2 linked regions of the Homo sapiens genome follow. The protein of the gene in region 2 interacts with the protein of the main gene of each other region in a pairwise test. Each region holds a gene or a part of one and is shown on either strand. Other genes may lie near its edges.

Region 1 (3,500 bases), on a different chromosome or scaffold from region 2:
TACATTCCCCAGCCAGAAGACTTAGAATCCATGCTTGAGCCAAAGCCTCCATTAAAACCACTGCCCGACCCTGCATTGGATGCTGATCCCCAACCAATTGCTGCACCAGAATTAGAGCCACTATAAGAGTTATTTCCAGAACCGAAGGCCTGGTTTGGCTCCCTCTGCATGTTGCCTTGGTTTTGGTTATTACCCGATGGGCCTGACTGGTTCTGCTGGCTGGCTAACATGCCCATCATACCCCAACTGCTCTGTAGTGCTGCCTGGGCGGCAGCCATCATGGCTGGATTAATGCTGAACGCACCAAAGTTCATCCCACCACCCATATTACTACCTTGATTGTTTCCCAAACCAGCTCCACCCCCTCTGCTATTACCAAATCCACCCTGATTCCCAAAGCCACCTGGATTACCACCAAATCTTCCACTTCTTTCTAACTGTCTATTGCTATTGTGCTTAGGTTCGGCATTGGATATATGAACGCTGATTCCTTTAATGATCAAGTCCTCTCCACAAAGAGACTGCGCAATCTATAAGAAATAAGGGATGTAAACAAAGAAGATTAAACCACTGATTCATATATTTAAAGTAGCAACAAAACTTAGATTACAAGCATTAATTTATCTAAAGCCAGAGGAAAAATAAGCAATGAACACTCATTTCATTTAAACCCCCAATACAGCTTTTAGTTTTATTAACAGCAGCAGTGATATTTCAGTCGATTTTCAAAAGACATAGGCTGGGCATGGTGGCTCATGCCTGTAATCCTAGCGCTTTGGGAGGCCAAGGTGGGAGGACTGTGTGAGGCCAATAGTTCAAGACTAGCCTGGCAGCCTAGACAACACAGGGAGACCCCACCTCTATCAAAAAAAACCACAAAAAAGCCACATTAGCTGGGCGTAGTGGCATGCATCTGTCCTAGCTACTTGGGAGGCTGAAGCTGGAGGATCCTCCCCCTGGAGGCTGAGCCCAGGAGTTCTAGGGTGTAGTGAGCTATGATTACACCACTGTGTTCCACCAGCCTGGGCAACAGAGTGAGACCCTGTCTCAAAATAATAATTTAAAAAATGGGCCGGGAGCAGGAGCAGTGGCTCACGCCTGTAATCCCAGCACTTTGGGAGGCTGAGGGGGGTGGATCACCTGAGGTCAGGAGTTCAAGACCAGCCAGATCAAAACAGTGAAACCCCGTTATCTACTAAAGATACAAAAAACTGGCCAGGCGTGGTGGCTCATGCCTGTAATCCCAGCACTTTGGGAGGCTGAGATGGGCAGATCACCTGAGGTCAGGAGTTCGAGACCAGCCTGGCCAACATGGTGAAACCCTGTCTCTACTAAAAGCACAAAAAAATCAGCCAGGCGTGGTGGCAGGCACCTGTAATCCCAGCTACTCAGGAGGCTGAGCCAAGACAATCGCTTGAACCCATGAGGTGGAGGATGCAGCGAGCCAAGATCGCGCCATCACACTCCAGCCCGGGCAACAAGAGCAAAACTCTGTCTCAAAAAAAAAAAAAAAGTATATAACATTCCCAAATGCCACATACTGAAAATTATCTAAAGGCATATTTACTTTTAGATTTCTTAAAATGTTGTATTTGTGATATCAGATACAGGTATCACAAACATCTAGGCCCATACACCCTACGTCTTACAAGGTCAGAAAACTTAGCTAAGAATAGCAATTAGCTGCATGGGCAATGTTCAAGAGAAATTACCTAATTACCTGGGACATATTTTTTTTTTTGAGACAGAGTCTCACTCTGTCACTGGGCTGGAATGCAGTGGTGTGATCTCAGTTCACTGCCACCTCCGCCTCCTGGGTTCAAGCGATTCCCCTGCCTCAGGCTCCAGAGTAGCTGGGACCACAGGCGTGCACCACCACACCGAGCTATTTTTTTTTTTTTTTGTATTTTAATAGAGACGGGGTTTCACCATGTTGGCCAGGATGGTCTTGATCTCCTGACCTCGTGATCCACCCGCCTCGGCCTCCAAAGTGCTGGGATTGTAAGCATGAGCCACCACGCCCGGCCGGGACATATCGTTAAGGAGAAAAATACCTGATCATCTGCAAATGTAACAAAGGCAAAGGCCCTGAATGGCTTGGGGATGAAGACATCCATCACATCCCCGTACTGAGAGAAGAACTCCCGCAGCTCATCCTCAGTCATGTCCTCTGTACAGCGCCCCACAAACACTTTTCTGCTTCTCAAAGGCTCATCTTGGCTTTGCTGATCAAATCAAAAGGAAGAAAAAAACTCAGAAATATGTTATGAACAATGAAAAAAACATTAAGGTAAGGGATATAACAAAATCATTCGCCTTGGATAGCAGTGAACCATTAAAAAGTAGACGTACCCTTAATTTTTTCCATCAGCATTTCTTTTTCTTGTAAGGCTTCAGTGAAGAGTAACGTTTTAAGTTACAAAAGTACACAGTCATGCATCACATAATGATGGATATAAATACATCATGAGCCATTACACAATTTCATCATCGTGGCCAGGTGTGGTGGCTGACACCTGTAATCCCAGCACTTTGAGAGGCCGAGGCGGGTGGATCACTTGAGGTCAGGAGTTCAAACCAGCCTGGTCAACATGGTGAAACCCCACCTCTACTAATACAAAAATCAGCCGGGTGTGGTGGCAGGCACCTGTAATCCCAGCATCTTGGGAGGCTGAGGTAGGAGAATCACTTGAACCCGGAAGAGGAGGTTGCAGTGAGCCAAGATTGCACCATTGCACTCCAGCCTGAGCAATAAGAGTGAAACTCCATCTCAAAAAAAAAAAAAAAGGGCCAGGTGCGGTGGCTCACACCTGTAATCCCAGCACTTTGGGAGCCCGAGATGGGCGGATCATGAAGTCAGGAGATCAAGACCATCCTGGCTAACACGGTGAAACCCCATCTCTACTAAAAATACAAAAAATTAGCCAGGCGTGTTGGTGGGCACCTGTAGTCCCAGCTACTCGGCAGGCTGAGGCAGGAGAACGACGTGAACCCGGGAGGCAGAGCTTGCAGTGAGCTGAGATTGCACCACTGCACTCCAGCCCGGATGACAGAGTGAGACTCTCTCTCTCAAAAAAAAAAAGTCGTTGTGCAAACATCATATAAACCCAGATAGCATAGCCTACCCCACATCTAGGCTAGATGGTATAGCCTATTGCTCCCAGGCCACAAACTTTCAAGTTACTGTACTCAACACTGTAGGCGACTATAACATGATGGTAAGTATTTGTGTATCTAAACATAGAAAGGGTACAGTAAAAACAGTGTTATAATCCTATGGGACCACTGCTGTACACGAGGTCTGCTGCTGACTGATCAACTTTGCCATGTGATACATGACTGTGTTTGGATTTGAGAAAATTAATAAATAAGCAATCTCTTGGCAAAGATGATGATGTTCCAAATAAGCCAATGTTATTTGTTTGCTTGGAAAAAGTTAGGTCTTTATAACAATTAATGTATGTATTCTGATTCTCTTTATGTTTTAACATATAACTATG
Region 2 (3,500 bases):
CTATGGCTCCTCCTGTTTACCTGCCGCCTGCAGGCCTGAGCTCATGAATAGCCAAGCAAAAGCCTTTGCCCTGAAAACTAGAGTTTCACAGATGTCACCTATGTATCTACTGCAGACTACGGCAGACGTCACCTTGAGAAGGAATGACACGTGCTTCAGAACGTTCTCTCCACTCTTCCACCCACGATACGACCTTACTGGCTAGGACCGTGTGCCAGGTGTGGACCTTTCTGGACCCCAGCTCCTCTTCCCCTCTCTTGCCCCTTTGCTGGGGCCCCGACACCCTCCCATCTAAGGCTGTGCCCTGCCCCAGGACTGACCTGTCCTTTGAGATTAGGAAGCCCTGGCTGAACAGGTCAAGTGGCTCAGGGTCAGCCTACCCTCAGGGAGCAGACTCTACAGGGGCAAGCTGCAGGAACCACCCTGCTCGTGAGTTCAAAGCTCGTCTCACAGCTTACCCTCTCCAAACCTCGGCCTCCTCTCTCCTCAAATGGGTGCTGTGAAGACTGAAGAAAATCGTGCCTGGCCACCTGTAAATGCTGTGAGTAACAGGCACTGCCATGGCTCCAGGATCATTGCTGTCATTATTACCCTACCAGTCCTGTGGGGAGGGCAGGTGCGGGTTCTACCATCTCATCTTTGTTCCATAGCAAGCCCCCCAATCTTGCATTCCAGCTCCAGTAACTCAATCCTTACCTAAGTCGGGTGACTGATTGAGTCTCTGCCCAATTTTTCTGCTCAGTTCCCGGGCCCTCTGAGACCAGAGCCCCTCCATCGCTCCCTGCCTTGCAAGCCACCCAGCAGTGTGCCGGGCCATCTCGCCAGCTGGCTGCTGCACAGCCAGGTTCTGCTGGCCGGAGACCACCAGCAGCTTGAAAGCAGCCAGGATGTGAGTATTTAGACCAGGGAAAGCAGCAAAGCAGACTTTTATTTTTGTTTCTTTTTCTTTATTTTCCCCCTAGGCAGCTGGTTTGCCAGTATCTCCTCAGTCATCCCAGAGCCAGAGCCCCACTCGTTGGGCCCAAGTGGCAGCTCTGTGCCCAGGCCCGGCCACCCCCTAGAGAGCCTGTGTCTAGGAGGCAGCTGGCCTGCTGGCCCCTGCACACTGCAGAGCTGGGCACCTCCAGAGCCCATCCTCCACACTGCCCTGCCTGCACCCACACTGGCGGGCCTCACTTGACCCACACAGGGACTGCAACCATAAAAGCAGCAGAGCCACTTGCCCCCAACCCCGCCCCGCCGAGCCTGGGGCCTCTCCAGGGTCAGGGCCCACTCCAACAAAGAGCATTCTCAAATGCCACCAGGGACACCTTCCAGACAAAGCTGATCCAGTAGCATGCTGGCTTTGAATCCAGGTCAAATACCCAAGATGCACCTTTTTTCCTATTTTGTTTTCTTATTGTTTATTTATTTATTTTTGAAACAGGGTCTCGCTGTCACCCAAGCTGAAGTGCAGTGGTGTGATCAGGGCTCACTGCAGCCTCAACCTCCTAGGTTCAAGTGATCCTCCCACCTCAGCCTCCCAAGTAGCTGGGACTACAGGCCCATGCACCACCACCACACTGGATAATTTTTGTATTTTCTGTAGAGACAGGGTTTCACCATGTTGCCCAGGCTGGTCTCAAACTCCTGGGTTCAAGTGATCCTCCCGCCTTGGCCTCCCTAAGTGCTGGGATTACAGGCATGAGCCCCAGGCCCAGCCCAGAATGCACTCTTAAATGTTGCTGGAGTCAGAAATTTTGTTCCGAGTAAATCACCAAGGGGAGTCTGGGGTCCTGGCTGCAGAAATGTCATTTCTGCGTCAAAAACAACCAGCAGCCTCTGTAAGAAGCCCTCCCTGCAAAACCCCAGTAAGCATTCTTGAAATGGTGAGGGTGGGCCCTCCACCCTGACCCACCCATAAAGCCGGGCTGGGGCGGGCGAGCACACACTTGGGGAACCCACCCTGGAAGAACCAAGGCAGGCACCGGAAGCCCCCAGGGAGGGTTTTCTGATGCTGCTCTCAATGGGCTCATCCTCAGCTCTCAGGGAAAAGTCAAGAGTCCTGAGTGACATAGCCCCCCAGGGTCCCAGAAAGCTAAGGATTCATGAACACGCGCTGACTGTCAGAACTGAAAAGGCCTTAGAAATGCTGGACGATGGGCTGGGCGCAGTGGCTCACGCCTGTAATCCCAGCACTTCGGGAGGCTGAGGCAGGCGGATCACCTGAGGTCAAGAGTTCGAGATCAGCCTGGCCAACATGGCAAAACCCCATCTCTACTAAAAATACAAAAATTAGCTGGGTGTGGTGGCATGCACCTGTAATCCCAGTAATAATCCCAGCTACTCAGGAGGCTGAGACAGGAGAATCGCTTGAACCAAGCAGTGGAGACTGCAGTGAGCTGAGATCGTGCCACTGCACTCCAGCCTGGGCGACAGACTGAGACTCTGTCGAGAAGGGGGGGGGAGGGGAGGGGAGGGGAGGGGAGGGGAGAAGAGAAGAGAAGAGAAGAGAAGAGAAGAGAAGAGAAGAGAAGAGAAGAGAAGAGAAGAGAAGAGAAGAGATGAGATCCTGGATGATTAACACTCCCAGAAAAAGCCAAATGTAGCATCCATTCATCTCTGCCTGCTGTCCAAACCACACACAAGTGACGGTAAGGGAATAAAATGGGGGCTAAATCCACAAAGACAAAGAGACCACAGAGGAAAAGATAAATGAAGGATCTCATGGTGACAACTAAAGACAGTGTACGTGACAACCCCAGCACAAAGAGGGTGCCTAACGCATGGCACTTAACCACTATCACCAAATTTTAATAGCGCAGCTCAAATTTCAGTTTTAGTGTCCTTGAAACCCAAGGAAAAAAAATATGGATCTTTATTTTTCTATGTAGAAACTCCCACTTACAAGTCTGGGCTCAGTGTTTTGTTGCTACAGTGATATTTTTCAACCATGTCTTTTTAAATGTTTTCATTATGAATCCCCAAAATATAGTTTGTCGGTAAACTTGAGGTCAAACAGCAGACTGATTTTAAGATGTGTTCAATGAAGCAAAAATGCCAGTATTTGCCTTCTTAGAGGGACAAAATGGTCAAAACTCAGTAAGAGTGGAGAAAAGAAAGGGAAAGAATAAATGAAAGCAGAAGACAAGGAGAAAAGAGGTGAAAATAGGTGGGCTAAGGAGTAAAGGAACTGGGAGAAAGGACCGAAGGTGTCAGGAGAGCTTGGTGAATAACAGGCATTTCCTTCCACCTGCAGGACGCTAAAACCACACTGGATTCGCTGCATTATCCTTCAATGTCTCCTCCCCTGACTCCCTCATCACTCACCCAATTATCTGCTACCCCGACTCCTCCCTTGCCCCTGGTCCACCCCAAAGGCTATGGCCCAGGGAGCATGGGGAGGGTCCCCCAGTCCCACCCTCAAGGCACTGTGGGAGCTCAGGCCCTGACTCAGGACCCCTGAGCTCTGATCCTGCATCCTCCCTGTCTCAGTTAAGGGACCTGAGGGACGCTTTTCA

The links. Proteins that work in one complex are often made in the same cells at the same time.
Region 1: the proteins of ASB13 (region 2) and TARDBP interact in binary tests that used the Homo sapiens proteins (3 or more experiments, as listed by UniProt).

The regions. Positions count from the first base shown.
Region 1 is NC_000001.11:11,019,154-11,022,653, reverse strand, and holds part of TARDBP (TAR DNA-binding protein 43), read right to left. Parts: intron 2,226-3,500; coding exon 2,055-2,225; intron 531-2,054; coding exon 1-530. UniProt on the Homo sapiens protein: RNA-binding protein that is involved in various steps of RNA biogenesis and processing.
Region 2 is NC_000010.11:5,660,096-5,663,595, forward strand, and holds part of ASB13 (ankyrin repeat and SOCS box protein 13), read right to left. Parts: intron 1-3,500. UniProt on the Homo sapiens protein: May be a substrate-recognition component of a SCF-like ECS (Elongin-Cullin-SOCS-box protein) E3 ubiquitin-protein ligase complex which mediates the ubiquitination and subsequent proteasomal degradation of target proteins.